Linked DNA regions of Homo sapiens. The protein of the gene in region 4 purifies or fractionates together with the protein of the main gene of each other region. This does not show direct contact. Each region holds a gene or a part of one and is shown on either strand. Other genes may lie near its edges.

Evidence for each region.
Region 1: the proteins of CTNNA1 (region 4) and CDH5 purify together in Homo sapiens (affinity purification with western blotting; 5 studies listed by BioGRID and IntAct, with this or other methods). This does not show direct contact.
Region 2: the proteins of CTNNA1 (region 4) and HNRNPA3 purify together in Homo sapiens (co-immunoprecipitation; 2 studies listed by BioGRID and IntAct, with this or other methods). This does not show direct contact.
Region 3: the proteins of CTNNA1 (region 4) and CCT8 purify together in Homo sapiens (co-immunoprecipitation; 2 studies listed by BioGRID and IntAct, with this or other methods). This does not show direct contact.

The regions. Positions count from the first base shown.
Region 1 is NC_000016.10:66,362,755-66,369,707, forward strand, and holds the start of CDH5 (cadherin-5 preproprotein), read left to right. Parts: upstream 1-3,936; 5' UTR 3,937-4,004; intron 4,005-5,888; exon of another isoform or gene 5,889-5,998; intron 5,999-6,953. UniProt on the Homo sapiens protein: Cadherins are calcium-dependent cell adhesion proteins. They preferentially interact with themselves in a homophilic manner in connecting cells; cadherins may thus contribute to the sorting of heterogeneous cell types.
Region 2 is NC_000002.12:177,208,083-177,215,799, forward strand, and holds the start of HNRNPA3 (heterogeneous nuclear ribonucleoprotein A3), read left to right. Parts: upstream 1-4,711; 5' UTR 4,712-4,717; coding exon 4,718-4,789; intron 4,790-7,456; coding exon 7,457-7,579; intron 7,580-7,667; coding exon 7,668-7,717. UniProt on the Homo sapiens protein: Plays a role in cytoplasmic trafficking of RNA. Binds to the cis-acting response element, A2RE. May be involved in pre-mRNA splicing.
Region 3 is NC_000021.9:29,063,635-29,070,656, forward strand, and holds part of CCT8 (T-complex protein 1 subunit theta), read right to left. Parts: intron 6,704-7,022; coding exon 6,613-6,703; intron 5,869-6,612; coding exon 5,789-5,868; intron 4,072-5,788; coding exon 3,922-4,071; intron 3,438-3,921; coding exon 3,257-3,437; intron 3,144-3,256; coding exon 3,082-3,143; intron 1,472-3,081; coding exon 1,334-1,471; intron 1-1,333. UniProt on the Homo sapiens protein: Component of the chaperonin-containing T-complex (TRiC), a molecular chaperone complex that assists the folding of actin, tubulin and other proteins upon ATP hydrolysis.
Region 4 is NC_000005.10:138,749,043-138,756,436, forward strand, and holds the start of CTNNA1 (catenin alpha-1), read left to right. Parts: upstream 1-4,382; 5' UTR 4,383-4,468; intron 4,469-4,480; exon of another isoform or gene 4,481-5,056; intron 5,057-5,651; exon of another isoform or gene 5,652-6,121; intron 6,122-7,394. UniProt on the Homo sapiens protein: Associates with the cytoplasmic domain of a variety of cadherins. The association of catenins to cadherins produces a complex which is linked to the actin filament network, and which seems to be of primary importance for cadherins cell-adhesion properties.

The DNA.
Region 1 (6,953 bases), on a different chromosome or scaffold from region 4:
GCTGAGGATGAGACCCCTCCCTGCTCCTCCTTCCCGCTCTTCCTCCTTCTGAGCCCCTTCTGAGACTACCTCAGGTGAGCAGCCCTATTTTATGTTCCCTGGAGGTGTGTCCGCCCCTCAGCACAGCACAGCCAGCTGGGCAAAAGGGTTTTTCCTTTGCCCGTAACTGAGCAGATGGGCTCATCAAGCCCTCTGCCATCAGACCATCACCTGCCTTAGAACACAAAACACTCGACTCTCCCCCCAGTCTCTCTGACCCGGGGAGCAGCGGGCTGACTGCCGGTTCTAATGAGTGCACAGTTTCAAGTTCACATTTGGGGAGCACTCACCTATTACCAGGTGCTGGGGATAAGCACCCAAATAGGACACAATCCCGGTGGGAAAGGAGAGGAGGGTTGTGAATGAGGTCTGTATAAAGTGCCCTGGGAGCTCAGAAGAGGGAGTGGAGTGTAGAGACAATGAGATCTGGGTGGCTCTGCCAGGGCTCTGCGCACAGGCGAGGAAGGAGAGAGAAGGAAACACACAAGGTGGAACAGCATGGGCAAAGTCCTGAGGCGTGAGGCTGCAGGGCTTCACCACGACCGCCCCTGCCAAGCTGATGGCATCGTTTTCCTGCCCCATCCTTGGGTGTCTCACGCTGTGGGGAGGAAGGAAAAGGAAGTCTTATTTGGGGAACCCCTGCTGTGTCCCGACTCAATTACAGCAGGGCAGGAAAGCTCCCTGGGTAAGGAGCTGGGCTCTGGAAACAGAAGCGTGGCTCGGAATTTCCGCCCCACCACTGACAAACTCTGATCTCAGAAAGGCTTTCACTCCCAGCCTCTGTTTTCCCATCTGTAAAATGGGCCTAACAGTAGTACCACCCCCGCAGGGTTGTCCTGAGGTTTGAATGAGGAGTCCCAAGGAGAGCTTAGTGCATTAGCAGCAGACACAAAGGCTGTGGTCCTCAAATGTAACAACACAAACACGTTTCCTGGGGAGCTACAAACACATAAGTCCTGGGATTCTATCACCAGCCATTCTGACCCCATCAGCCTGGAGTGGGGCCCAAGAAATCTGCATATTCACTCCCCCTCTCCCAGGATGGATGGCTTGAAGACCACACTTTGAGAAACAGCCACTCGATAAGGCTTGCTGGTCCTGTCATTTATTTTCATTGTCTCATTTCATCTTCCAAACGGCCTGCAAAGTCTGAACAGATAACTCATTTCACAGGTGAGGAAAGAAGCTCAGAGAGGCAAGTCGGCTGCCCAGGTCATGCAGGCAGCAACGGGTCATGCTAGGATCCAAACCTGGGTCTGCAACCCCCACACCTGTACCTCCCCAAGCAGCGCTCCCTGTCGGGTCAGGCTTCCTCCTGGCAGAGGCCAGGTGGGCGTCCCCAGGCCTTGTCGTCCCACCCGCCATCCCACCCCCACTGCCTCCACTGTTGCTTCCTCCTCTGCTACTAATCTGGTCTCACAGACCATCCCATTTCCTGCTAGCCCACCAGCCGCCTTCCTTGCTCCCAATGACACTTCCTGGCCTTGTGCCCTCCTGTTACCTCCTTTGCCTCCAGAGAGGTTGGAGCAGAGGCTGGGCAGTGCCAGAAATCAGGCATGAAATCCTCAGGGGGACCAAGGAGGCACCAGCCTCCCTCCCACAGTCTCAGCTACCTCTGCTACGGTGACCCCCAGCCCCACCCCTGGGGCCCACAGCTCATGCCTGGCTCACCATTCCTTTGTTTATGGACCACAGGAACAGTCGTTTTCAGGGCAGAGTCAACTTCCTCATGGACTGGGAGTACAAAGGGAATTGGCAGATGGTGCCAGGACAGGCCCTGTCCCCATCTGCCACAGCCCCGAGTCTGAGACCCAGCAGGAAGCAATGCACAGGCCAGTGTATCCCCATGGGCACGTAGACCATGAGGACAGGCGGGGGTGAGGGGGATGTGGACTGGAACACAGGGGACAGAGCACTGTCCTGGCTCCTCTGCGGCCAACCCCCCCTCTGGGCAGGAGAAAGCAGAGTTAATCCCATTGGAGAAGGAAGCGCTGAGCTGTTGTTTGTTCATTCCACAATCGGCTGTTGAATGTGTTGGATCCCACTCAGAATTCCGCCCCAAGGACTGTTCTCCTTCCAGCAGGTCGCTCCTCAGTCTCCAGCATCATCTGTCTTCCCGTCTGCTGGATGCTCCCTGGGGACATGAGCGTGCTGCCATAGTTAAAAAAAAAAAAAAAAAAAAAAAAAAAAAACCCTCCCACTTCTCTGCTCCCATTCACTGTAAGACTTGGGGAAGAAGCTACAGTCACACGTGACTCCACATCCCCGTCCCCCTTTCTCCCCTTTCTCTAGCCCCTCCAATCTGTCTTGTCTACCTTTTCCTGTTTAACCTGTTCTGGTCACAGTCATTGATGACCTCATCTTCCAAATCCAAAGTTAAGTCTCAGCCCTCATGCTCCCCAGGCTGACCCACTGACTACTCCCCTGCCCTCCTCCTCTGCCCTCTCCTGGCATTCCTCCTTCATCATGGGACCCTCTTCTAATGGATCCCCAAATGTCAGAGGGTCCAAGTCCTCCCTCCCTCCAAGCTCATCCATGCCCATGGCCTCAGATGCCAGCCATAAGCTGTTGGGTTCCAAACCTCGACTCCAGGCTGGACTCACCCCTGTCTCCCCCACCAGCCTGACACCTCCACCTGGGTATCTAACGAGCATCTCAAACTCAACCTGCCTGAGACAGAGGAATCACTATCCCCTCCTCCTCCAAAAATATCCTTCCATCACACTCCCCATCTTGTGCTCTGATTTACTAAACGGCCCTGGGCCCTCTCTTTCTCAGGGTCTCTGCTTGCCCAGCTATATAATAAAACAAGTTTGGGACTTCCCAACCATTCACCCATGGAAAAACAGAAGCAACTCTTCAAAGGACAGATTCCCAGGATCTGCCCTGGGAGATTCCAAATCAGTTGATCTGGGGTGAGCCCAGTCCTCTGTAGTTTTTAGAAGCTCCTCCTATGTCTCTCCTGGTCAGCAGAATCTTGGCCCCTCCCTTCCCCCCAGCCTCTTGGTTCTTCTGGGCTCTGATCCAGCCTCAGCGTCACTGTCTTCCACGCCCCTCTTTGATTCTCGTTTATGTCAAAAGCCTTGTGAGGATGAGGCTGTGATTATCCCCATTTTACAGATGAGGAAACTGTGGCTCCAGGATGACACAACTGGCCAGAGGTCACATCAGAAGCAGAGCTGGGTCACTTGACTCCACCCAATATCCCTAAATGCAAACATCCCCTACAGACCGAGGCTGGCACCTTAGAGCTGGAGTCCATGCCCGCTCTGACCAGGAGAAGCCAACCTGGTCCTCCAGAGCCAAGAGCTTCTGTCCCTTTCCCATCTCCTGAAGCCTCCCTGTCACCTTTAAAGTCCATTCCCACAAAGACATCATGGGATCACCACAGAAAATCAAGCTCTGGGGCTAGGCTGACCCCAGCTAGATTTTTGGCTCTTTTATACCCCAGCTGGGTGGACAAGCACCTTAAACCCGCTGAGCCTCAGCTTCCCGGGCTATAAAATGGGGGTGATGACACCTGCCTGTAGCATTCCAAGGAGGGTTAAATGTGATGCTGCAGCCAAGGGTCCCCACAGCCAGGCTCTTTGCAGGTGCTGGGTTCAGAGTCCCAGAGCTGAGGCCGGGAGTAGGGGTTCAAGTGGGGTGCCCCAGGCAGGGTCCAGTGCCAGCCCTCTGTGGAGACAGCCATCCGGGGCCGAGGCAGCCGCCCACCGCAGGGCCTGCCTATCTGCAGCCAGCCCAGCCCTCACAAAGGAACAATAACAGGAAACCATCCCAGGGGGAAGTGGGCCAGGGCCAGCTGGAAAACCTGAAGGGGAGGCAGCCAGGCCTCCCTCGCCAGCGGGGTGTGGCTCCCCTCCAAAGACGGTCGGCTGACAGGCTCCACAGAGCTCCACTCACGCTCAGCCCTGGACGGACAGGCAGTCCAACGGAACAGAAACATCCCTCAGCCCACAGGCACGGTGAGTGGGGGCTCCCACACTCCCCTCCACCCCAAACCCGCCACCCTGCGCCCAAGATGGGAGGGTCCTCAGCTTCCCCATCTGTAGAATGGGCATCGTCCCACTCCCATGACAGAGAGGCTCCTCGAGGGCACGCTGGGCCTCCTCGTGGCTCAGAGCAGGGTCGGGGAAGGTGCACCCAGAGGTAGTGCCAAGGGCACAAATGGGCATCTCGGGGCTGAGGGGGGCAGGGCAAGGGCTTGGCTCTCCCAGAAGTGTATTCTCCAACTCAAAAAGGCCCACTGGCCTTCATCAGTGCCAGGCTCAGAGAGGGCAGTATTCTGCCCCAGTTGCCCAGCATGCCGGGGCAGAGGACTGGCACCCAGGCCTTGGCCTCCCCTCGGTGCCTTACCCTTACTGGAGAGGATTTACCAAGGCCTGACACCAGCCTCCTCAGCCCCCTACCCATACGCCACTAAAGCTCTATGCTGGGATCTGGGGAGGGGCCCTGAAAAGGAAGCTCCGAGCCTTGGCCCCTCTCGGTCAGCCAGTGCCCCCATTTCAGGATAGGCAAGCTGAGGCTTGGCTCTGGGCACTTGAGGTCTTGCCTTTCCCTCTGGGCCTTTCCCTGCCCAAACACCATCGGGGCCCACTATGTGTCAAGGGAGCTGTAGTCTGGACAGCGGTCCACCATTCCTCCCACCAGCACCCTTTCAAAGGCTAGAGCATAAGAGCCCCAAGGCCCCCACAGCCCAGGAAGTCCCCCAGAAGCAGGAGGTCTGGGCCAAGAGCCTGGCCTGGAGACAGCTGCCCTGGGTACAGATCCCAGCTCTCCCATTTGCTCTGGGGTGACCTTGGGAAAGTTACCCAGAGTTTCCAAACCACAGTGGGGAACAAGGGATGGTGTGGGGCTCATTATTTTACCATTAACAACTCCACAAGGTAGATACATTCTTTCTTTATATCTCAGTGAAAGCAACTGAGCTTTGGAAACATATGAGCTGGTGTGGGGATTTGAACCAGGATCTCGTACTCCAAAGCCCCAGCTCTCCCCAGGTCTCAAGTGTCTCATCTGTGAAATGGGGAAACAGTGTTTCCTCAGTCAATTGAGTGAAGTGAGCTACATCCCTGGTGCTGGGAATGGCACATAACATGAGATCTTTAAGGAATAGTGGCTGGATTTACCAGCTAGCACAGAGCCGATCCTGGTTGTGAATGTGATAAAGATTTTGGCCCTTGAGGTATGGTCAAACCCCATCACGGAGGGGTCCTCAGGTGCCCAGCAGGTACGAGGAAGGGGGTGCAAGTGAGAGGACATCGCGAGCACCTCTGGGCCTCTGCTCCATGTCAGGCTCCCTCCCCAGCGTGGACGTTTCTCATGTGTGATGGGCAGATAGGATTCTGACAAGAGAGGAAGGGCATTCCCAGGGAGGCAGCTTTGAGGAGTCGAGGGTGTACCTGGAAGGCTCTTTTGCCACAGGCCACTGGAGCCAGGGCCAGAAGCCCTGGTCCATCCTCAGGTGGTGGGAAGCCTGGGACTCTCCTCTGCCTGCCCTAGAGAGCAGCAGGTATCCACCAAGGGGCCCAAGAGCTGCTGAGCCCCTGAGCAGCCCTACCAATTTCAGCTTATGGTGGTGAGGGGTAGGGGAGGTGTATACTGGCCTGGAAGGGGTTAAGCTGCCCGCCTGCAGCCTCAGCCTGAGCTATTGTGTTGCCAAACAAGGGCCGGACATGAGGGCAGGAAGCCAGCAGGGGCCACACATTTTCTGCAAAGTTGGATGATTCACTGCTGACTTGGGGACACCCAGGGGACAGAGGGGACACCATCCCAGGAAGAATCTTAGGCTCATTTTGCCCACATGGACCCATGACTGTTCCCTGTATCCTCTCTCTGCACCCCCTCAGTCACACTGAAGCAACTATGAGAATTCCCATTTGACAGATGGGACCATCGAGGCTGAGGGAAGCTGTGCAGCCAGTCCAAGGTCACACAACCAACACAAGGTAGAAGCAGGGTGAGTGCGGTTCCTTCTGACCCACAGTCCATGCCACACTCCACAGTGAAGCTCAGAGAGGGGGAAAGCAGAGCAGTCCAGGCCACAGAGGCAGGCACAGGGACAAGCCAGGAGCCCAGTGATACCAGGGGAAGGAATGTTCTAGGAGGCAGGGCCTCAGGAGCTTCACCTCTGGCTGAGGAGATACTAAAAAGTCTGTCCTGATCCAGGTTCAAGCTGGTGTTAAGTGGGTAAATCATGGAGGGCTTGCTGGAGGAAGAGTGGGAATCCCAGATGCTAGGAGGCCTTGGGCAGCCCCTCTGCAGCCTGCACCTCAGTCTTCCCATCTCTTGAGAGTAGGGGATGGTCCCTAAACTAATTCAGGGATTTCCAGGTTGTCTGCCTTGGACCATAGCAAAACAGTCAGATCCTGGCAGGTCCAGATACTAGAAGGAGGAGGAAGTGGGACCCAGGGGCAGGCCGGGCTGGTGGTGAATGAGATTTCCTTCTGCAGAGGAACAGAAAGAGTAGGAGGTGGGCCCAGAGTAGAGCCAGGAAATGAGGTCAAGCGTAAGTTGGCCAGTCAAAGCCACACCCACCAGGCTGGAGAGGGCGGGTAGATAGGAGTCAAGACACCTGCACCCTTACTGAGCACCTACTGTGTGCCAGGCTTTGCACCCATGATCTCATTTAATCCTCCTGCCCAGGGAGGCAGCTATTGTTGCCTCCATTACAGATAAGGAAGCTGAGGCTCAGCAAGCAAGAGATGAACCCAAGGTCACACAGCTCCCGAGCAGCTGGGCAGGTTCAAATAGGCAGGTGCAAGGGCCTCATTCTGTTCCCCGCACTGCCCTGACAGTCCCAGACAAAGTCAGGAAGCCCAGAGGAGTCTGGAAGCCTCCTTAGCATGGGTGTTCTCTCCTTGAAGTTTGGAGCTGTCCCTTTAGAAGGCAAGGGGATAGACTAGATGACCCGG
Region 2 (7,717 bases), on a different chromosome or scaffold from region 4:
GATTTTTAAAGAAAAGGTTGTTACCTTCAAGAATATTAAAATGTAAATACAGTGATTATATGACATTCTAATTCAGCACTTTACTTGCAGGGCCTATATAATTTTAGTCAATGTATTCAACTTTCCTACATCCCAGATTAGGGAGAATTTACCCTCCTAAGTTTATTAAGGGAATGAAATCAGGAACATAATGTACGTGGCCCATTACAAGGTATACAGTAGTATTCAATAATGTGAGTGACTATGATGAATTTCCAGCACCTAGCATTGCCTGGCACATAGTAAGAGTTTGGTAAATAACTTTGTTAAGTGGAAGAGAAAGGAAATTTCAAATCAATCTGGATAGTTAGACATACATTGGTAAAAATAAAACAAATATGTTTGTTTCATATATATAAGCATTGATTAGGCCAACAAGAAAATGTGAGAGGATATGTAATAAGTTGTTGATCATGGTCAAATCTATGTAATAGGATTTTGTGGGGAAAGACTTTTTGTGTGTGTTTTACTTTATAAACTCCTTATTTAAAAATCAAGATTTTAGAAAATAAAGCTTTGGTATATTCTGAATATAATGGCACATAACAAAGCTTATAGTTTATTACAATTCCTCCCTTTTAAGGGTTACCTTCTTCCCTCATGCCTGTAATCCCAGCACTTTGGGAGGCCGAGGCGGGTGGATCACAAGGTCAAGAGATGGAGACCATCCTGGCTGACGTGGTGAAACCCCGTCTCTACTAAAAATACAAAAAATTAGCCAGGTGTGGTGGTGAGCGCCTGTAGTCCCAGCTACTTGAGAGGCTAAGGCAGGAGAATCACTTGAACCCGGGAGGCGGAGGTTGCAGTGAGCCGAGATTGTGCCACTGCACTCCAGCCTGGTGACAGAGCGAGACTCTGTCTCAAAAACAAACAAAATGAGTTACCTTCTTCCAGCCAGGCACAGTGGCTCACGCCTATAATCCCAGCACCTTGGGAGGCCAAGGCGGGCGGATCTCTTAAGATCAGGAATTCCAGACTAACCCAGCCAACATGGTGAAACCCTGTCTCCACTAAAAATACAAAAATTAGCCAGGCGTGGTGATGCACGCCTGTAGTCCTTACTACTTGAGAGGCTAAGGCAGGAGAATAGCTTGAACTCAGGAGGCAGGGGTTGCAGTGAGCAGAGATCACGCCACTGCACTCCAGCGTGGGCGACAGAGCAAGAGACTCTGTCTCAAAACAAAAACAAAAACAAAATTAGCCGGGCATGGTAGCATGGGCCTGTAATCCCAGCTACTTGGGTGGCTGAGGCATGAGAATTGTTTGAACCCAGGAGTGGTAGGTTGCAGTGAGCCGAGATCATGCCACTGCACTCTAGCCCGGGTGACAGAGTGAGACTCTGTCTCAAGAAAAAAAAAGTCTAGATCAGAAACTGCATAAAGCCACTTCAACCATAAAACCTAATATCAAAATGTATTCACAGGAACAAGTTCAAGTTGATCACTAAAAAACACGGAAAATTTTAATTTGAAAGTTTTATGCAAATTCAATATTTAATATCATTCCTAATACTTTGTATTTTATCAAAATCAGATGCTTAAAACATTACCACCACTTAGATGCCTCCAAATATCTTCTAGTTTACCCTACTATGCTGTACAAAAATGATTATTTTCTGTATGTCATGATATAAAGGAGAGGGCCTGATATAGATTATAAAGTTTGTCTGCCACCCATCTCACCCTAGGACCCTCATTCCCTCCTCCCATCCCATACACTCCCTTTCTCATATCAAAGAGTCAGGGCTGCAAGTGCAGACCATAGCCAAGGTTCAAGTCTGTGCCCTACAGGGTCAAGGACTGGAAAAGTGGTTTTTGTACCTGAGACATAACTGGACCTTAAGTTTATTTATTTATTTATTTTTTGAGATGGAGTCTCGCTCTGTCACCCAGGCTGGAGTGCAATGGCACGATCTCAGCTCACTGCAACCTCCGCTTCCCAGGTTCAAGCGATTCTCCAGCCTCAGCCTCCTGAGTAGCTGGGACTACAGGCACCCACCACCACACCCGACCAATTTTGTATTTTGAGTAGAGACAGGGTTTCACCATGTTGGCCAGGCTGGTCTCGAACTCTTGACCTCAGGTGATCCGCCCGCCTTGGCCGTCCAAAGTACTGGGATTACAGGCTTGAACCACTGCGCCCAGCCAGCAGCGTGATCTCGGCTCACTGCAAGCTCCGCCTCCCGGGTTCACGCCATTCTCCTGCTTCAGCCTTCCCAGCAGCTGGGACTACAGGCGCCCGCCATCACGCCCGGCTAATTTTTTTTTTTTTTTGTATTCTTAGTAGAGACGGGGTTTCACCATGTTAGCCAGGATGGTCTCGATCTCCTGACCTCGTGATCCGCCCGCCTCGGCCTCCCAAAGTGCTGGGATTACAGGCGTGAGCCACCGCGCCCGGCCTTTTTTTTTTTTTTTTTTTTTTTTGAGGCGGAATCTCGCTCTGTCACCCAGACTGGAGTGCAGTGGGGCAATTTCAGCTCACTGCAACCTCCGCCTCTTGAGTTCAAGTGATTCTCGTGCCACAGCCTCCCAAGCAGCTGGGATTACTGACGTGTGCCTCCATGCCCGGCTAATTTTTGTATTTTTTTTAAAAGTAGAGACAGGGTTTAACCGTGTTGGTCAAGCTGGTCTCAAACTCTCCACCTCAGGTGACCTGCCTACCTCGGCCTCCCAAAGGCCTGGGATTACAGGTGTGAGCCATGGCGCCCGGCCAGAGCTTGTTTAGACAAAAGCATAAAAAATAACTAATGTCTAAAAACAGCATACAGTCAGGATGAACAACAAATCTGGACCAATACAATAGGGAGGACAAAAAGATGTGAATAAATGGGCTGACATTTCATGTTCCTGGAGAGAACTTAGTATCCCATCCCACATTGTTTCGCGATTTAACATTAACATTTATACAAAAGTTACTAATTAGAACAAAAGTTATTGATTAGAATTAACTTATTAGAAAAACCTGGACAAACATACCCTAAAGTGCAGCCAGGTGATCACTCTTCTTGATCACCTATGTAATGTCTCATAGAGTACTCTGGTGTGAATAGCAATTTCCAAAGGTCTTTCACTTTGCATTTTTCTTTGTATCCAGAATCGATAAAGTTACCAGGACTATTTCACAGTAATTAGACTTACAAAATCTTAACACTAAATAGACGCTAAGGCTATACATTCTTCCAATGTCTCAAGTCTATTGCTGGCCATCAGGAGCACCTGGATACGTAGAACATAAGAAAGTTTGCGAAAAAGGAATCAAAGCAACAGGAGGAGTCTGGTTTGAACGGTTATTTCAACCAAATTACATTAAGGACTGCTAACTGTTTTCTGCCCCACAAAAATACCCTTTGTAAATGTTTCCAAACTATAACACAGGTCCTCCTGGAGCAACGGCTAGATAAATTAACAAACTTTTAGACTTTACGCTCCCCTTTTCCAAACTCCAAGTCGACCACTCCCCATTTGTTAACAGAAACTTACTATAACTGATTAGATTTCTAACCTTTCCTAGGGAGAGCCAGTTCAATTCTAAAAGGGTTGGTCACATGGGTTGCTAAATTAAAATATAAAGCATTTCCTAACAGGGAAGGGAGGCTGGTCAATTGTGGTTATTTTTATCAGTAACTTTAAATATGGATCCATAGATTATCAATTTATGGCTGTCGTGGGTGTTAGAAGATGACCTAATCCCATCCCCATTTTCATTTAAAAAACTGAAACTAAAGCTCTGTAAAATCAAATGATTTAAAATCATCTGACTAGGCCGAGAAAGGATTAGCTCTCTAGAGCATTACGGTAACAATCATTCGCAAACAGGTAGCATTATCTGGCGACCCTGCTTTTCTGGAAATCTTGTCAATTATTCAGTTCCTTAAATTCCGTCAGCTACAACAGATGCATCAGCTCTTTCCACACTAACTTGAAAGAAGCACATTAGAAAATAGTCCTGACTTGTTTCTTGAGATCAGTAACTAATGAACTGACCTCCACCAGTCCTGCCTCAGGTCGTTAATGGTAAAAATTCTGTATGTCAGCCGCGTTTTGAGGCCTGTCCAAGGTGCTTGTGAGTCCCACATGTTGGAGTCGCAGGGCTTTTCAGTACATGCCCTCAGGCAGGCGGCGCAGTCACAGACACTGGTCCCCGGCATTTGGAAACAGGAAAGATGGTCCGAGGGGCCGAGGAGTTTTTCTTGCAACCTTTAAATTACAAGCAAGAAAAACGTGGGTTTTATTTCGGGCACAGGAATAGAATGAATTCTGAAATGGAGAACTAGAGGCCTGCGTGGGGAATGAGGGACAAGCGCGAGAAGAAAGGGAAAGGCCTTTCTCTCTGGTGACGCGCGATCACAAGGCGTTCCCTCTACGTGGACGCTCACCATTGGCGGAGACCGCACTGACGTCCCGGAACTCGCCCTGACGCGAACGGCGGCAAAGGCCCTCTTCCCCTGAAAGCTGGCGAGGCGCGCGCGCTCCCGCGGCACGCCGCGCCTCCGCCCTCCGCCCGCCAACCCGCTGGTCCAGTCCCTCTTCGCGCCCGCTTGGCTCCGCCCCCTTCCCAATTCGCTCCTCCCCCAACAGACTGGCGGCGCGCGGAAAACGCGTCACGTGACGACTGGCCCCGCCTCTTCCTCTCGGTCCCATATTGAACTCGAGTTGGAAGAGGCGAGTCCGGTCTCAAAATGGAGGTAAAACCGCCGCCCGGTCGCCCCCAGCCCGACTCCGGCCGTCGCCGTCGCCGCCGGGGGGAGGAGGTATTAGGGGGAGAGCGGGGGGTTGGTGGGGAATGGCCGGCGTTGGGGGCCTGGTTCGGTGGGAGCGGGGAGGCCGGGTGGACCGGGTCGGCCGTCCCGCGCTCTTGCGTTGAGACAGGCTGTGGGAGGGGGAGGGGAGCGAGAGTTGGAGACCTCCTTGGGGCCCCTCGCCCGCCTCGCCTTCACCTTCGGCTGCACAGGCGGCCCCTTGGAGGCGCGGCTTGGTCGGGGAGGCCTCGGGAGGGAAGCCGGCCTGCCGGCTGCGCGGCCTCCGAAGCGAGGCCGAGGGCGGCATGGCGGGCCCCGGCGGGAGCGGTTGGGAGGAGGTGGTGGGGGAGGGGAGGGGACGAGCAGGCACATCCGGGCGAGCGAGCAAGCGGGCGGCGGCCACATTGACATTGATCCGCCGCCGCGTTACGAAATGGCGCATTGGCCCGCAATGGCCGCCGCCTCGCTCTGCCGCCGGGAAAGCGAGCCTGGGATTGGAGGGAAGAGGGCGGAGGCGGCCCGGCAGAAAAAGCCGCAAATGGCCTCGAAGCATGGGGAGGTAGTGCTTTCGCTGAAGTTCTGCCGACGCTTTTCTAGGCCTTTTACGGGTCCTCTCCGCGAGAAGTCGATAATTGGCCTTTTCTTTTTTTCGCAGCATCCTGTTGGAAATACGAGATTGTTAAAAACTTTGCTGCTTTAAAATACTTCCTGATATATTTTTGCTAAAGTACTTACATTACACTTCTTAAACCGCCATGTGGGCGAAGGACTTAATTTTTGAGAATTTGAGTGTAGATGTGAAAAACAACCCAGCCAGCTCCTTCCCGGCTCCGGCCGCTGAGGAGGGTGGGTGGAGAAGAATTTGAGTATAGTATGTTAAGGAAGAATTTAGAAATGTTTTTTATCTTCATGTTTTCCCATTCTTTGAGTCGGCTCTGGTTGTAGTTTCCTGGAATTTTATTTAGAGGACTGCAACCAGAGTTGAAATTTTCACGTTTTTGCAGTACATTTAATGTGGATCCTAAATATTTTTGTCGATTTCGTTATTGTCAATCGAATACATTTATCCAAGACTTGAAAAGATGAGATTACATGAATTAATGCTTTAGGCTATTAACGTTTTTTTCTAGCATGTGACAATCTCTTCACATTAAACGGTTTAACATCTCTACCTCTAGGAGACACAGGAAGACATTAGAATGTAAATGTGAGCCCCTTATTTAAGAACTTCGGGTGAAGGAAACCTTAATGCATGCATTAAATGACAGTTCATGCAATGTGTTAAAAAGTCTTGACTAAAGTATAAAACAATTTCAAGACATCTTAATTCTTAAAAATCTCAATTTTTGTTTTGCTGTACTCCGTTCTTATAGTCAGACAATACATACCATTCCTAATGTAAGTCCAACTTGCCAGTTAGTTGTGACTCTTAAAATTGAGTTGTAAATTGCAGATTTTTGCAGCATATAACAAACATGGGTTATAGAAAGCTATTTGATCGGCTTTTTTTTTTCCTCAGTTTTTTTGGGAAATGCTGGTTTGGCTTAGGAATGCCTGTTTTAAATTAATTTGCTTGAAAGCAGTGAGTTTCTGTAAGTTTGACATTCAGAACTTTTAGATTGTTCTTCATCACAGTTTTGAGTTTAAATGTATGGGCCGGGCGCTGTGGCTCACGCCTGTAATTCTAGCACTTTGGGAGGCCGAGGCGGGCGGATCACGAGGTCAGGAGATCGAGACCATTCTGGCTAACACGGTGAAACCCCGTCTCTACTAAAAATACAAAAAGTTAGCTGGGCGCGGTGGCGGGCGCCCGTAGTCCCAGCTACTCGGGAGGCTGAGGCAGGAAAATGGCGTGAACCCGGGAGGCGGAGGTTGCAGTGAGCCGAGATCGCGCCACTGCACTCTAGCCTGGGCGACAGAGCGAGACTCAGTCTCAAAAACAAAACAAACAAAAAAATTAAATGCATGTTGGGTTGTAGACTGAGAAGAGTTGAAATGGGATAGATGCAACACTGCTTCTCCAACAGTTTAGTGCCTTAGAAAATGACTTACTAGCAACTTCTAAAGTAAAGGTTCTCAGACAGTTGTAGCTTTTAAAAAATGAAGCGATTTTTTGATTCTGGAATTGTCTTGGATTTCAATTTAGTTGAAGTGATGCTGGCATTTGAAAGGCTGGTTATAGGTTTCCTTGACATAAGTTAGCCCCTTTAACAGTTGAAGTCTTATTTCTGGTCAAAGTTTTTGTTGTTTTGTTTTTTTGAGACGGAGTTTTCGCTCCTATGGCCCAGGCTGGAGTGTAATGACATGATCTTGGCTCACCGCAACCTCCGCCTCCTGGGTTTAAGCGATTTTCCTTTCTCGAGTAGCTGGGATTACAGACGCCCGCCACCACGCCCAGCTAATTTTTGTGTTTTTAGTAGAGATGGGGTTTCGCCGTGTTGGCCAGGCTGGTCTCGAACTCCTGACCTCAGGTAATCCATCTGCCTCGGCCTCCCAAAGTGTTGGGATTACAGGCATGAGACATCGCGCCGGTGTCTGGTCAAAGTTTTAACTGGACAAAGTGTTAACTGTCACAGGAATTTGATGTTGATTTTATTACTTACCGTACATTAAAGGCTCTTCGTGCATCTTAATTCATCTACTGTAAGGTAACTTAAGAGTATTGGTTCTTTCTCTCAGGGCCATGATCCAAAGGAACCAGAGCAGTTGAGAAAACTGTTTATTGGTGGTCTGAGCTTTGAAACTACAGATGATAGTTTACGAGAACATTTTGAGAAATGGGGCACACTCACAGATTGTGTGGTAAGTTACTAAGAGAACAGAAGGGTTCTAAGGGGTGTAGAGAACCGGTGGAGGTGTTTTCAACGTTATAAAACTTTTTATTTTGTAGGTAATGAGAGACCCCCAAACAAAACGTTCCAGGGGCTTTGGTTTTGTGAC
Region 3 (7,022 bases), on a different chromosome or scaffold from region 4:
ATGAAGATATATGTGCATATATTATGAAGCAGCAGAATACTGTATGTGTGAAATAGAAACTCAGCTTGCTTCTAGAACCCCCTGTCAAAACAGATGCATCTGCTTTTGATAAGTACTTAGGTGGAAAAGTACTTTTATCTATTTATTTATTTTGAGACAGAGTCTCACTCTGTCACCATGCTGGAGTGCAGGCAGGATCTCGGCTCACCGCAACCTCTGACTCCCTGGTTCAAGCGATTCTCCTGCCTCAGCCTCCCAAGTAGCTGGGATTACAGGCAAGCGCCACCACGCCCAGCTAATTTTTGCATTTTTAGTAGAGACGGGGTTTCACCATGTTGGCCAGGCTGGTCTTGAACTCCTGACCTCGTGATTTGCCTGCCTTGGCCTATGCTGGGATTACAGGCGTGAGATACCGTGCCCGGCCGAGAAGTGCTTTTATTTTAAATATGTCAGGTAGGTAGGTGTCCTGGTGTTTGTCTTTTGACAAAGGCTAACTAGTGTTCCCAATACAACATTGTGGTTCTCAAACTTTTTCTAAAATGTGGACTAGGCCGGGCGCGGTGGCTCATGCCTGTAATCCTAGCACTCTGGGAGGCCAAGGCGGGTGGATCACTTGCAGTCAGGAGTTGGAGACCAGTCTGGCCAACATGGTGAAACTTTGTCTCTATTAAAAATACAAAAATTAGCCAGAGATCACTTGAACCCAGGAGGCGGAGGTTGCAGGGAGCCAAGATTGTACCACTGGACTCAAGCCTGGGTGACAAAGCAAGACTCTAAAAAAAAAAAAAAAAAAAAAAAAAAAGAATAAAATACAATAAAATAAAATATGGACCAAATGACCAGACCCCCCTCATGCTACAAAATTTTAAAACTATCAACAACTTGGATTTCAAGAATTCTAGAGATGAAGTCAGCCACTATTGACTATAAACACAAACTTCAAACTTTCTAACATGTATTTTTAGAAACATACTTACCATTTTCAAATTACATTAGCTTATCTTGTTTTAGGATGCTACAGAATGTCAACTTTATTTTCGTGAAGAGCACACAAAATACTCACATTCTCATATTCTTTCACTTGCTGAATGTATAAGCTCTACTAGAAGGGCTGTGTGTCAGATTATAAATAATACGGCCACCATCTTTATATTTCCAGTTTAATGTTCAGTAGTTGAATTAGATATTTGAAGACTATAAATCTGGCATAAAAAAATAGGTAAGATCCTGCAATGTTCAGTTTTTTAAGAAGTACTTACTGGTTTAAGAGCTAACTCAAACAATCTGAAAGTGCAACCCCAATTATTACTTTTAAGGTTTGAAGTCTACATACCTTAGTTTCTGTTATCATGCCATCAAAAGGACAAGAGTACACTGCTATTTTTGCATCTTTGACAGATGTTACATCACCTTCGGTTTCCTTCTTAAAAACCATGCCATGCAATACTGAAGAGGAACTGATACCAGAGCCCTAAGGAATTGAATACCAAACTCATCAGCAATCTCCTGAAAATAACATTACGGTCAAACTGTTGATTCTCCATATACCAAAAATATCCCTTTCTAAAATAAAGTCATAAACCAAGGCAGTGACTCCTGGGATAAGGGGTGGAGTGGTGGACATACAGCACACCCTTCTGCTCGAGGCAGAAATCACTGAGGGAATGAGCTACTTTTAGGGAGGGGAGGTCCTTCCATGTACTGGGAAGAACCAAAGGCAGAGAACTGGTCTTAGCCATTCAGTTACCTAGTACTTGGTGCCAATATACCAGCCACAGCTGTCAGTACTGCAAATACAACACAGAACAAAGCAAAGATTCTGTTCTCACAAGGTTGCATTTAATGGGAAAAGCTGGCAGTACGTGGAGGGAGACAGCAAACATAGAACACGTGAGTATCTTCAGGGAAAGCACATGTACTTATGTTATGCTAAATTCACATTAACAATCAGAATGCCAATGTGCAAAACCAAAACCATTCCACTGATAGGTTTTACTCTATCAAGCACATTTTATCAAAAATATACTTTAATATTTCAATACTAACATTAAAGTGTGAATTCTATTATTGAAGAGGAATAGGACGATTTCCACCCCACTCAAAACTGTCTTATAAGCTTATTATAATTCAGAGTATTATGAAGAACACAAAAAAATTAGTATTTTGCGCTGGGCGCGGTGGCTCACACCTGTAATCTCAGCACTTTGGGAGGCCAAGGTGGGCAGATCATGAGGTCAGGAGTTCGAGACCAGCCTGGCCAACATGGTGAAACCCTGCCTCTACTAAAAAAATACAAAAATTAGCTGGACATGGTGGCATGCACCTGTAATCCAGCTACTTGGGAGGTTGAGGCAGGAAAACCACTTGAACCTGGGAGGTGGAGGTTGCAGTGAGCCGAGGTCGAGGCACTGCACTCCAACCTGGGCAACAGAGCCAGACTCCATCTCAAAAAAAAAAAAAAAAAAAATTTAGTATTTTGTTTATACATTATTCTTAAACCCACAAGACATCACAGAAAATGACTTTATAAGGAGATAATATGTCAATATCCTTTTAAACTTAAATAGGTAGTAGTATTATTACAACTTAGCAACATCAAAATGTTACAAAATAATGCCTCAAAGGCCAGGCACGGTGGTTCACGCCTGTTAATCCCAGCACTTTGGGAGGCCAAGGCAGGTGGATCACCTGAGGTCGGGAGTTCGAGACCAGCCTGACCAACACGGAGAAACCCCATCTCTACTAAAAATACAAAATTAGCCGGGTGTGGTGGCGCATGCCTGTAATCCCAGCTACTCGGGAGGCTGGGACTGGAGAATCACTTGAACCGGGAGGCGGAGGTTGCGGTGAGCCGAGGTCATGTCATTGCACTCCAACCTGGGCAACAAGAGCGAGACTCCGTCTCAAAAATAAATAAGTACATAAATAAAAATAATGCCTCAAAAAAAGTCCTAAGTGTTCAAATCATGAAGTAACATTTAGGTTTAGATGAACACATTTTTTTTTTTTTGCACAAAAAAACAAAAAAAGCACACAAAAAAACTGACCTAGATATGTAGCATTAATGCATTTTCTACTTACCAGAATTTTACAAACTCTGATGTTATCAACATTGAAATGGCCGGAATCAGGAAAAATAGATACTGTTAAGAAAATGAGACATATCAAAAGATTATTTTGGGACAACAGAGAAAGTATCTAGTCATGTTAAAGGTATTTTTATTTTGGATCTTTTCATTTACTGATATTTACTTACCGCATGCCTGAGCAATAAGCTTGGCCAGAAATACTTCATTACCATATTGTTTACTCATTATGGAGGTACGAAGTAGAGATGAGACTTCATCAATATCTCGAAGGTTTTTTGCAGAACAACATACCAAATTAGGAAGAATCTCATGAGCTTTTCTGCAGGCTATTTCATAACCTTCTATGACCTAAAACATAAACAACATTTCCTATTCTGACATGACTTAAAGTAGCTTATTTTGGTAACCCAATGCATATGGATGTTTATTTTTGATACAAAATGACAAAGAATATACTTCGGAATAAAACATATAGTAGACTCTACTAGTTATGAATGGAGGCTTAGATGACAGCCCAAATTTGAATCTTAACTCTACCTAACTCACTAGCTATGAGATCTTGGGCAAGATTTTTCTAATTTTAGTCTCTTTTCTCATCTAAAATAAAGTGGGAAAAAAAATAGATAAAATGGGATTATAAGGCCTCACTAATAGGGTTTTTGTGAGACTAAAATGATACAGCATGTGAAGCATATGTACTATAATGGCTGGTACAGAGCAAACTGCTCAGTGCATGTTAGCTACTACTATAATAATGATTTTAGTTTATGTTTTAAGCAGGTGTATATGTAAGCAAAAATTTAGTAGGAGTAAATTATAAATGAACACTTGCCTCTGAAACTGACAGGCCAATCCTCAGAAGTTCTTCAGCTAATTCCAGGAGAGCTCCAGCAAATACCAGAACAAAGTTTGTGCCATCTCCAACTTCTTGCTCTTGCATATGAGAAGCCATTACAATCATTTTTGCAGCAGGATGCTGTACCTAGTAGAAAAGGTAATATCAAGTTAAACATCTGATCCTTAAAGCAACATAAAATTGTTCATTTCCATTTCTTAAATAGACTCAATTTTCTTGTAGATTAGGTAACTCCATCTGATCACACTGCTACACTGCTATACGCTACTTATAGTGTGGTCACAAGAAAAAATCCAAGTCCCTTTATGCCGATCAGCACAAATGTATCACTATAAATAAGAATTTCAAAGTGCATCCTCTTTTGGTGGCCTGCACATACAGTGCCACACATATGTTTCACCATATCATATTTCACTAAATTAAAAAACAAAGTAATTACAACCACCAAACCTAGATATTTTTTAAAAGCCTTCAGGAGAACTAAAATAGATACCACTTAACTTGGTCATGACTCTCAATATCTATTTTACTATATATTCTTGTTGTAAGGGTTATCATTTGTGATTTAAAGAAAAGGGGGAGTATAAAACTTTTCTTCAAATATAACATAATTTTATGTGGATTTTATTCTTAGGATTTAATTTTAGATACCTTTACAGAAACAAGCCAAGGAGTAAGAACTGAGAGCAACAAGAAAACTATAAAAAGTCAGCCCTGTGATTTTATTATTTTGACGGTATCACCACTGTACTTTAATAACTCCTGAGATCATCAGTGTGCAACATTAACATTCACAGTGACAAACCCTTGTACAAGTGTTTTGTGGAGTTAAAATTTAACTTTTAACTTAAGTTCTTTAAGAATTTATATATATAATATGTATTTTTTTTTCTTTTTTGAGATGGAGTCTTGCTCTGTCGCCCAGGCTGGAGTGCAGTGGCGCGATCTTGGCTCATTGCAACCTCCGCCTCCCAGGTTCAAGCAATTCTCCTGCCCTAGCCTACTGAGTAGCTGGAACTACAGGTGTGTGCCACCACGCCCGGCTGATTTTGTTTCTGTATTTTTAGTAGAGATGGGGTTTCACCATGTTGGCCAGGCTAGTCTCAAACTCCTGACCTTAGGTGATCCGCCTGCCTTGACCTCCCAAAGTGGTGGGATTACAGGCGTGAGCCACCGCGTCCAACCAAAAATATATTATTTAAGAGGTTAGAAAAATGTTGATTCTTCTATCGTTTCATTTAAAACAAAAGATTAAGTTCTAGTGCTTTCAAGGGCTAAGCTTCAGGAAAATTCCCTGAGGTTGAATATGTTATCCTTTAATTACAAGGCGGGAATGAGGAATGGCTCTCTCTGCCTGTTCAGGTGCCAGACCTTCCTTATAACCCTGCTGGCAGGCAGTATCTATTTTATAGATTCTAATAGTAAAACTAAAGCTGAACAAAGTAAAATGCCATCAACTGATTGTTTTTATTTTCACAAAACCAAATGGTTGGATCTTTTTAAAAACCACTGTTATATGTATACGTTTTTGCACTGTGGAATAATTCACTTCAGAGTCACCCTATAGAATGAAGACAATGGTAATCAATTTCATATCGTAATTAGCAATGTATCACAACCAATCCCTCCATAAATTAATAACTTGAGAGATTTTTAAGATTTCAGTGGCTAAAACATTCAATCTAAAGAGGACTCTTTATAATTAGAACAATCTGTACAATAAATTTTCAAGCTGGAAAAATAGTCCCTTATCCAATCTGAAATAAGAGATTTCTTCTAGTTAAAATCTACTTAATTTTGATGTCACCAAAATATTTCTTGACTTTTTAAAGAAACAACTTACTTCTAGTTCTCTTAAAATAGTTGCTGCATCGTTTGTCACAAACAACTTCTCCAAGTGGTTGATAACCATTTTGTTCATTCCTCAAAAGTAACAGTTAAAAAAAGAAAAAGAAAGCCATTATTAATCAAATCCTTCCCCAAATACCCAGGAAAATCTAGTTAAGAAATTATAAATTTGTATATTAAAAAAAGAGCTTTGCAAGAAAACACATACTATCTATTCTTCAAGTTTATCTTATAGCCCCATGGGCATTCTCTGACTGCAGACCCATATTCTTTCTTCCCTTTCTAATGTCCTACAATATTTACTACGTAAGATGCCAAATCTCACATTTTTGCCAATTTCTATCTTCTGTTTGCAACATGACTGTCATGCAGCAAGTGCTCAACAGAAATTAACATGTAAAAAGGCCAAAATAATCTACTTAGTATATTTAGTTGTATGTTTATTCCATGAAACTGTATCATTTAAATTTAATTGGTGGTAGAAGGCAAGAGGAAGGAGAGAATTTTCTTCCTTAAACTATGTCACTTTTATATTTAGTGTTTGTCAGAATGAACATTAGGTACTATCTTACTAGTCAAAGTGTTATAATTTTTCTATCCTCTCAACAGGATAAAAAGTAATATATTGACCCCCATTTTTCTAAAGAGATGTGAGTTGATTGAAAATTAGAAATAACTAAAAATTGGAAATGAACTATCATTGAGCTATCAAATTAACTTCCGAAGTCATACCATAACATCCTCAGAACAAGTCTGAAAGAAGACGTAGTACACAATATTCTACTACTGTATCTTTACAAATATTAATTTAGAAATTACCATTTGGTCCATATGCTGTACGAGTGGTTTGGGCAAGCTCCTTGCAAGCTTGTATGTTTCTATACACAGCCTCTTCTAATCCTGAAAAGTGCTGTTAAAAAAAACAAACAAAAAACCCCGCTAATTAGACAGGACAGTGAAACAAAAATTTCAAATACAAGATATCTTTGCTTATATCTTGCCTCTAATAAAGAGGGAGCATAGCTTAGGTATTTGGCACAAGAGGGCTGGTTGCAAATCTTAGCTTTCTGGCTCTTTTTAAATTTGGGCAATTTTCTTAACATTTCTTCATTATAAAATGAAGTAATTATAATAGTACCTAACTCATAGGATTGTTGAGACAATCAAACAAGATTTTTTAATGTAAAACACAGCATTTGATATTCATAAATGATGCATACATTTCCTCT
Region 4 (7,394 bases):
CCTCTCCACATAGCTGGGACTACAGGTGCATGCCACCACACCCAGCTAATTTTTGTATCCTTTGTAAAGACAGGGTTTTGCCATGTTGTGCAGGCTGGTCTCCAACTCCTGAACGCAAACGATCCTCCGCCTCAGCCTCCCAGAATGCTGGAATTACCGGCATGAGCCACCGTGCCCAGTCAGTTTACCTGTTTTAGTATCTGTCTTCATCATTACCTTTAAGTGGTGTGAAAACAGGGATCAAGTCAGTCTCAGTTTTTATTCACTTCCTCAGCACACAGCAAGTGCCTGGGATATAGAGAATGCTCCAGCCTTCCCTGGTAAGCTTTTCACGATTTCTCAGGAGTAGGAAACTGACTCTCTTTAGGCACACTGCAAATCTCTCATATCTTCCTGTCACCTTACCCTTCTTTTCCCAAAACAAACCCTGTAATTTCATCTTCAGGGTCCCATGCTTAGAGAGATCCCATGCTGGCTGGGCGCAGTGGCTCACACCTGTAATCCCAGCACTTTGGGAGGCTGAGGCAGGCAGATCACAAGGTCAAGAGATTGAGACCATCCTGGCCAACATGCTGAAACCCCATCTCTACTAAAAATACAAAAATTAGTTGGGCGTGGTGGCAGGCGCCTGTAGTCCCAGCTACTTGGGAGGCTGAGGCAGGAGAATCGCTTGAACCCAGGAGGCGGAGGTTGTAGTGAACCGAGATCACACCACTGCACTCCAGCCTGGTGACAGAGCAAGACTCCGTCTCAAAAATAAATAAATAAATAAATAAAAATAAAAAAATAATAATAATAAAGAAAGAGCCCATGCTTGGTTTAATACTCTGCTGTTGCTGTCTTAAAATGGTTAATAGTTTTTGAACAAGGGGCCTTAAAATTAAGAATCTTGTCCCGAGTGAAATGATGAATATACAAAGTTATGGAGCATAATCCTTTAACTCTGTCTCTTGTTACTTTATCCAAATACTTTATTGACTGATTACTATTGTGTTAGGCTGTTCTTGCACTGCTAAAAAGAAATACCTGAGACTGTGTAATTTATAAAGAAAAAACAGGCCGGGTGCGGTGGCTTATGCCTGTATCCCAGCACTTTGGGAGGCTGAGGCAGGCGGATCACCTGAGGTCAAGAGTTCGAGACCAGCCTGGCCAACACGGTAAAACTCCGTCTCTACTGAAAATACAAAAATTAGCCGGGCGTGGTGGTGTGCACCTGTAATCCCAGCTACTTGGTAAGCTGAGGCAGGAGAATCGTTTGAATCCAGGAGGTAGAGGTTGCAGTCTGGGTGACAAAAGTGAAACTCCGTCACACACAGACACACACACACAAAAAAAAAAAAAAAAGAAAAGAAAAAAGAAAAAACGTTTAATTGGCTCATGGTTCTGCAGGCTGTATAAGCAAGGCCTGGGCATCTGCTCTACTTTCTGGAGAGGCCTCAGGGAACTTTTACTCATGGTGGAAGGTGAAGCTGGAGCAGGCACATTACATGCTGAAAGCAGGAGCAGGAGGGGGCTGAGGTGCCACATCTTTTTGTTTTTGAGACAGGGTCTCACTCCGTTGCCCAGGCTGGAGTGTAGTGGCACAATCATGGCTCACTGCAGCCTCAATCTCCCCAGGCTCAGGTGATCTTCCCACCTGAGCCCCCCAGGTAGCTGGGACTACAGGCACACACCACCATGCCTGGCTTTTTTTTTTTTTTTGAGACAGACTTTTGCTTTTGTTGCCAAGGTTGGAGTGTAATGGCGTGATCTCGGCTCCACCTCTGCCTCCCAGGTTCAAATGATTCTCCTGCCTCAGCGTCCCGAGTAGCTGGGATTACAGGCACATGCCACCATGCCCTGCTAATTTTGTACTTTTAGTAGAGATGGGGTTTCACCATGTTGCCCCAGGCTGGTCTTGAACTCCTGACCTCAGATGATCTGCCCGCTTTGGCCTCCTGAAGTGCTGGGACTATAGGCGTGAGCCACGGTGCCCAGCCTGCTTGGCTAATTTTTTTGTATTTTTTTGTAGAGATGGGTTTTTACCATGTTGCCCAGGCTGGTCTCGAACTCCTGGGCTCAAGCTATCCGCCCACCTTGGCTTCTCAAAAGTGTTGGGATTACAGGTGTGAGCCACTGTGCCTGGCCGGTGCTACACTTTAAAACGACTACATTTCATGAGAATTCCCTTAGTACCTGGAGGACAGCACCAAGCCATGAGGGATCCTCCTCTATTACCCAAATGCCTCCCACCAGCCCCACCTCCAACACTGGGGATTACATTTCAATGTGAGATTTGGGCAGGGACAAATATCCAAAATATATGAATTATGTTCTGAGTTAGCCAGGTGAAGTAGAGGGACGCCAAAGCCACTCTAGGCAGAGGAGACTACAGGAGCAAAGACCCTGCAGCCAGAAACAGGACAGGGGTAGTTGGACAAGAATGACCTTGTCAGGGTTTGCCTTTTTCTTTTTCTTTTTGAGACAGAGTCTCACTGTGTTGCCCAGGCTGGAGTGCAGTGGTGCAGTCATGGTTCACTGCAGCCTTGAACTCCCAGGCTCAAGCGATCCTCCCACCTCAGCCTCCCAAGTAGCTGGGACTACAGGTAGGTGCCACTACACCCAGCTATGTTTTTGTATTTTTTTGTAGACAAGGGTTCTATCATTTTGCCCAGGCTGGTCTCCTGAGCTCATGTGATCCACCCATCTTGGCCTCCCAAAGTGCTGGGATTACTTGTGTGAGCCACTGTGCCCATCCTCTTTTTCTTAAAGGTTGTTCTCTCCCCACTTCATGGTCCTATTGCCCTTTGTCAGCATCTGTTAACTAGCACAGGCCCACAGTACTTTGAATTACAGTGGGCACATTCACCCACAGATGTTCACTAGGCACTCCCTAGGGGATGGGCAATGTGCTGGGTGCTGCAGGAGATACAGCTCCTGCTTTCCAGAAGTTTATATTCCCTTGGGGGAGAGGGAGATGTGAGGAGTAGAGGGTAAACACGGTAAGGGCAGGTCTCCCTAGCACCCTGCTCTCTATTCAGCACAAGGCCAGCAGTGGACATCGTCGTCTTGCATTATTCAGGTTTATAGGCCAATACTGAAATCTATCTTATTCATCATCCCGTGAGCAGGGGAAACATCATTAGGGTTTTCTATACCAGGATGATAGTGAGCATGTAGTAGTTTTTGTTTTTTTGTGTTGTTTGTTTGCTTTGTAATTTTGTTTTCTTTTGTTTTTGGAGTATTCACTATGAAGATAAGAAAGGGTAAGAATAAAATGCCCCAAATGACCAGAGGAATAGAGATAGAAGTCAGGTCCCTCAAATTTGTTGGAGGAGGGGGACAAGCTGGGAGGGGGGACGTGCTGGGGGCGGGGCGGGAACAAGCCCAAAAAGGGACAGCTGCTGCGGTGCCTCTTTTGTGTTTGTAAATGTCCTCCCCGCAAGGTGGCTCTAGCCTGTAATCCCAGCACTTTGGGAGGCTGAGGAGGATTTCTTGAGCCCATGAGTTTGAGACCAGCCTGGCAACATAGTGAGACTCTGTGTCTGTAGTTCCAGCTACTCCGGAGGCTGAGGTGGGAGGGTCGGTTGTCCAGGGATTTGAGGCTGCAGTGGGCCGTGATCGCGACACTCCACCCCAGCCTGGGCGACAGAGGGAGACCCCGTCTTAAAAAAAAAAAAAAGTCCTTGATCAAGAGGGCTTCGGGTGTTTCCATCTGTGGAGTGAGGGGACGGGTTAGGTGAATTCTAGGGGCGCTTCCACCTCACATTATGAAAGGTCCTGAGAGTCAGATTCTAGTTCCACTGTGTCCCGAAGCTGTGGGGCCTTTCCTTAGCCTCCGCTTCTCCTTCTGTAAAGCCAGGTAGTTGGCCTAGATCACTTTTCCAGAAGACTGTGACTCCGGGACACCTGTGACACTCTTGAGGGGAGCGTGCCCAGTACCCCTGGTCGCGTCTCTGGGATTCCGCCGGGGTGGGGGCCCGCGCGAGGCCGCCCCTGAGCCTCACCTGTGCGCGGAGCGGTGACTCACCTGCCCTCGCGCAGCCCTCTCCGCCCGCGGGCTGTTCCAGGAGTCACCGCTCCTCCTCCCTCTCAGGGGTCACTCCCGGCCTAAGCTCCCACTAGGGGCCGGGGAGGAAGGAATTCTGAGGTGGGCGGCGGGGAGGAAGAGGTCCCTCGGGGGTCCCGGTCCGGCGTTGCCAGACTCTCTTCGCGGTGGGGGCCTTCCCTTTCCCCAAAAGCGGAGGCCGGAACGGCCGGGAGGAGCGGGCGGGGCGGCGGCGGGAGGCGCCGGGAAGAGCGAGTCGGAGGGAGGTGCCAGGAAGGGCGGGCGGGGCCGGGACAGGGGCGGGGGCCGCGGGCGGGGGGCGGGCCGGGGGCGGGGGCGTGGGGCGGCCCATTTCCTCCTCCTAGCCGGACTGGAGGGAGACAAAGCAGCGCCCGTCTGCTTCGGGCCTCTGGAATTTAGCGCTCGCCCAGCTAGCCGCAGGTAACTTCGTACCTCCCTCCTCGCGGGCGCGGTCTCTCGGGCCAGGCCGAGAGGGTCCTTGGGCCGGGCCGTCCCAAGCTGGGCCCCGCGAGCCGCGGGCGGGCGAGCGGGCGGGGCGCGGTTTCTTTGGCGACGTCGCCGGGAATTGGGCCCCGGGCGGGCGTGGGACCCGCGTCGGGCCGGCGGTCCCTTCCCCCGCAGGGCCCGAGTATGGGGCCCGGGCGGGCACGGCCGGCGCTTCCCAGCGCTCGGGAAGTCGGGGGGCCGCCTGGGCTGGGGAGGAGAAACTATAGGCCCAGCGCCGCCGCCGCGTTTCCTCTTGGAAAAGTTTTCTCGCGGTTTCCAAACTTTGTTACCGCGGCCTCGGCGCGCGCGGCAGCCCCGCGCCGGGCCCCTCGGCCGCCTTCCTTCCCTGGGGCGGCTTGTCTGGGAGCCGCTTTCCCGGGAAGTGATTGTCGTCCGGCTCCGAGGCGTTCCTGCCCCCTCCCCCTTCCCGGCCGCTGAGACTTCCCGATGGGGCGGCGGGGACGCGGGCTCGGCGAACCGGGAGGCTGGAGCCCGGGCTTCTCCCATACAGCTTCGCCGTAGGTGGGCCACACCCGTGTGGACTTTTGGCGTGACCGTCCACTTGGACTCGGGGATTACTCAGCTTTCCTGGGTTTCTTGTCGGTTGGACGCACTTAGCTTTCAGCCCTAGTTTTCAGGAGTGGCATTAGAGAGGTTTTTTTTTTTTTTTAATTGTTGTTGACTTTTAAAGGAGCGTGTGTGTGCGTGCGAGTGTGAAGCACTTGTTGGAAAAAATGTTGCCTGAATGAATGCCTGACCTTTGCTTGGCAGCAGTGGCTTCCCAGTAATGCAGGCGGCGGTTGGCCCAGTTCCAAGGTTGACTCCCTCTTACGTCCTCTTGCATCTTGGTGACATTTTTTTGGTGCGTGTGTTTTGTACAGAATTTACAATTATTTGGAAAAGAGCGAGATATGTCAAGTCTACGACTAAATTCGGGGCATTTTATATTTATGATGAAGGAAATGCTTACATCATTGTTGGGACAGGATAGGCATTTTGTGGAGCGAATATTTGTGTTTAGTCAGCAGTGATTTTTAAATACTGGACAGGTGGGTGTTACTTTAAGGAACGGAATTTATAAATCGAATTAATTAGGATGTGTTATTTTGTTTTACAGGAAGAATGAAGAATGAGTGTAGGAGTTACCTATAGTTTCTGCCTAATTATTTACCAATCTGGACTTTTGAACAAACATTTTTTTTAAAGACGGGGTCTCCGTCGCCCGGGCTGGAGCGCAGTGACACGATCATGACTCACTGCGGCTTCTGTCTCCTGGGCTCAAGTGATCCCCCCACCTCGGCTTCCGAAGTAGTTGGGACTACAGGCACGCGCCACCACATCCGTCTAATTTTTGTATTTTTGGTAGAGATGGTGTCTCGCTGTCTTGCCCAAGCTGGTCTCGAACTCCTGGGCTCAAGTGGTCCTCCTGCCTCAGCCTCCCAAAGTGTTGTGATTACAGGCCTGAGCCAGGGTGCCTGACCCCATCTGGATATTTATTCAGCGAAAGAATAATTTTTTAATCCACCTAAGAGCTCACAGTGTAATAGGGGAGACACACACCCCAGGTGTAGTACAGAGCGGACTGCAGTAAGTGCCTTAACAGTACTAATGAAACTATTGTCTGAGTCAAATCTTACCTAATAGTAACAACAAAAGAAACTTGTAGAGGCACGGAGAGGGGGCTAATAAGTTTTACTTGGGTAAGTCCAGAAAGGCTTTCAGGAGGTGGTGGCATTTGATCTGGATGAAACATGAGTCGAGTTTTTTTTAAGTGAAGGGAGAAAGTCATGAGAAGCATAAAAGGGCATAGGAGTTTGGGGAATTGTGATATCACTCTCCTGGTTTTCTTTTCCTTTTGACTCATCTCAGTTTCTTTCTTTTCCTCGCCCTCACTCTTTCCTCTCGTACCCAGGGTTCTTTCCAAAGTATCTTTGTCCTCCACACCACTGATGTGGCATCACCTTCACTCCCATCAGTGATATCTCATTTCATATAGTGACTTAGAGATGAGAGGTACCCTCCTCCAAGATGAGAATCACTGCTCTGTGCAGTCTCTTCTGTCATCAGCCTTATGTGCTAAAAGTCCAAGCCTTTGAGTGCAGGTGTGTCTCCTGACCCACATGGTCACCTGTGCATTGGGAAGCTTTTTGGGTGTCCCAGGCTTCTCAAACTCAAGGTGTCCAAAGTGGGACTCCTGTCTCTTCTGGAGACATGAACCAGATGTGGAGATCCAGGGTAACTGCCCTGCCCGGGTTTTGGGATTTCCTTCTTTTTTTTTTTTTTTTTTTTTTTTTTTTTTTTTTTGATGGAGTCTCCCTGTGTTGCCCAGGCTGGGGTTCAGTGAGGTGATCTCAGTTCACTGCAAACTCCACCTCCTGGGGATTCAAGCGATTCTCCTGTCTCAGCCTCCGGAGTAGCTGGGATTACTAAGTGCAAGCTACCACGCCCGGCTTATTTATTTATTTATTTATTTATTTATTTTGAGATAGTCTTGCTGTGTCTCCCAGGCTGGAGTGCAGTGGCATAATTGCGGCTCACTGCAACCCGTGCCTCCTGGGTTCAAGCAACTCTCCTGCCTCAACCTCAAGGAGCTGGGATTACAGGTGTGTGCCAACATGCCTGCCTAATTTTTTTGTATTTTTGATAGAGAGGGTTTCACCATGTTGGCCAGGCTGGTCTCAAACTCCTGACCTCGTGATCCACCTCGGCCTCCCAAAGTGCTGGGATTGCAGGCTTCAGCCACCGTGCCCAGCCTGATTTTTTAATTTTTAGCAGAGATGGGGTTTCATCATATTGGTGAGTCTGGTCTTTAACTCCTGACCTCAGGTGATCCACTCGCCTCAGCCTCCTAAAGTGCTGG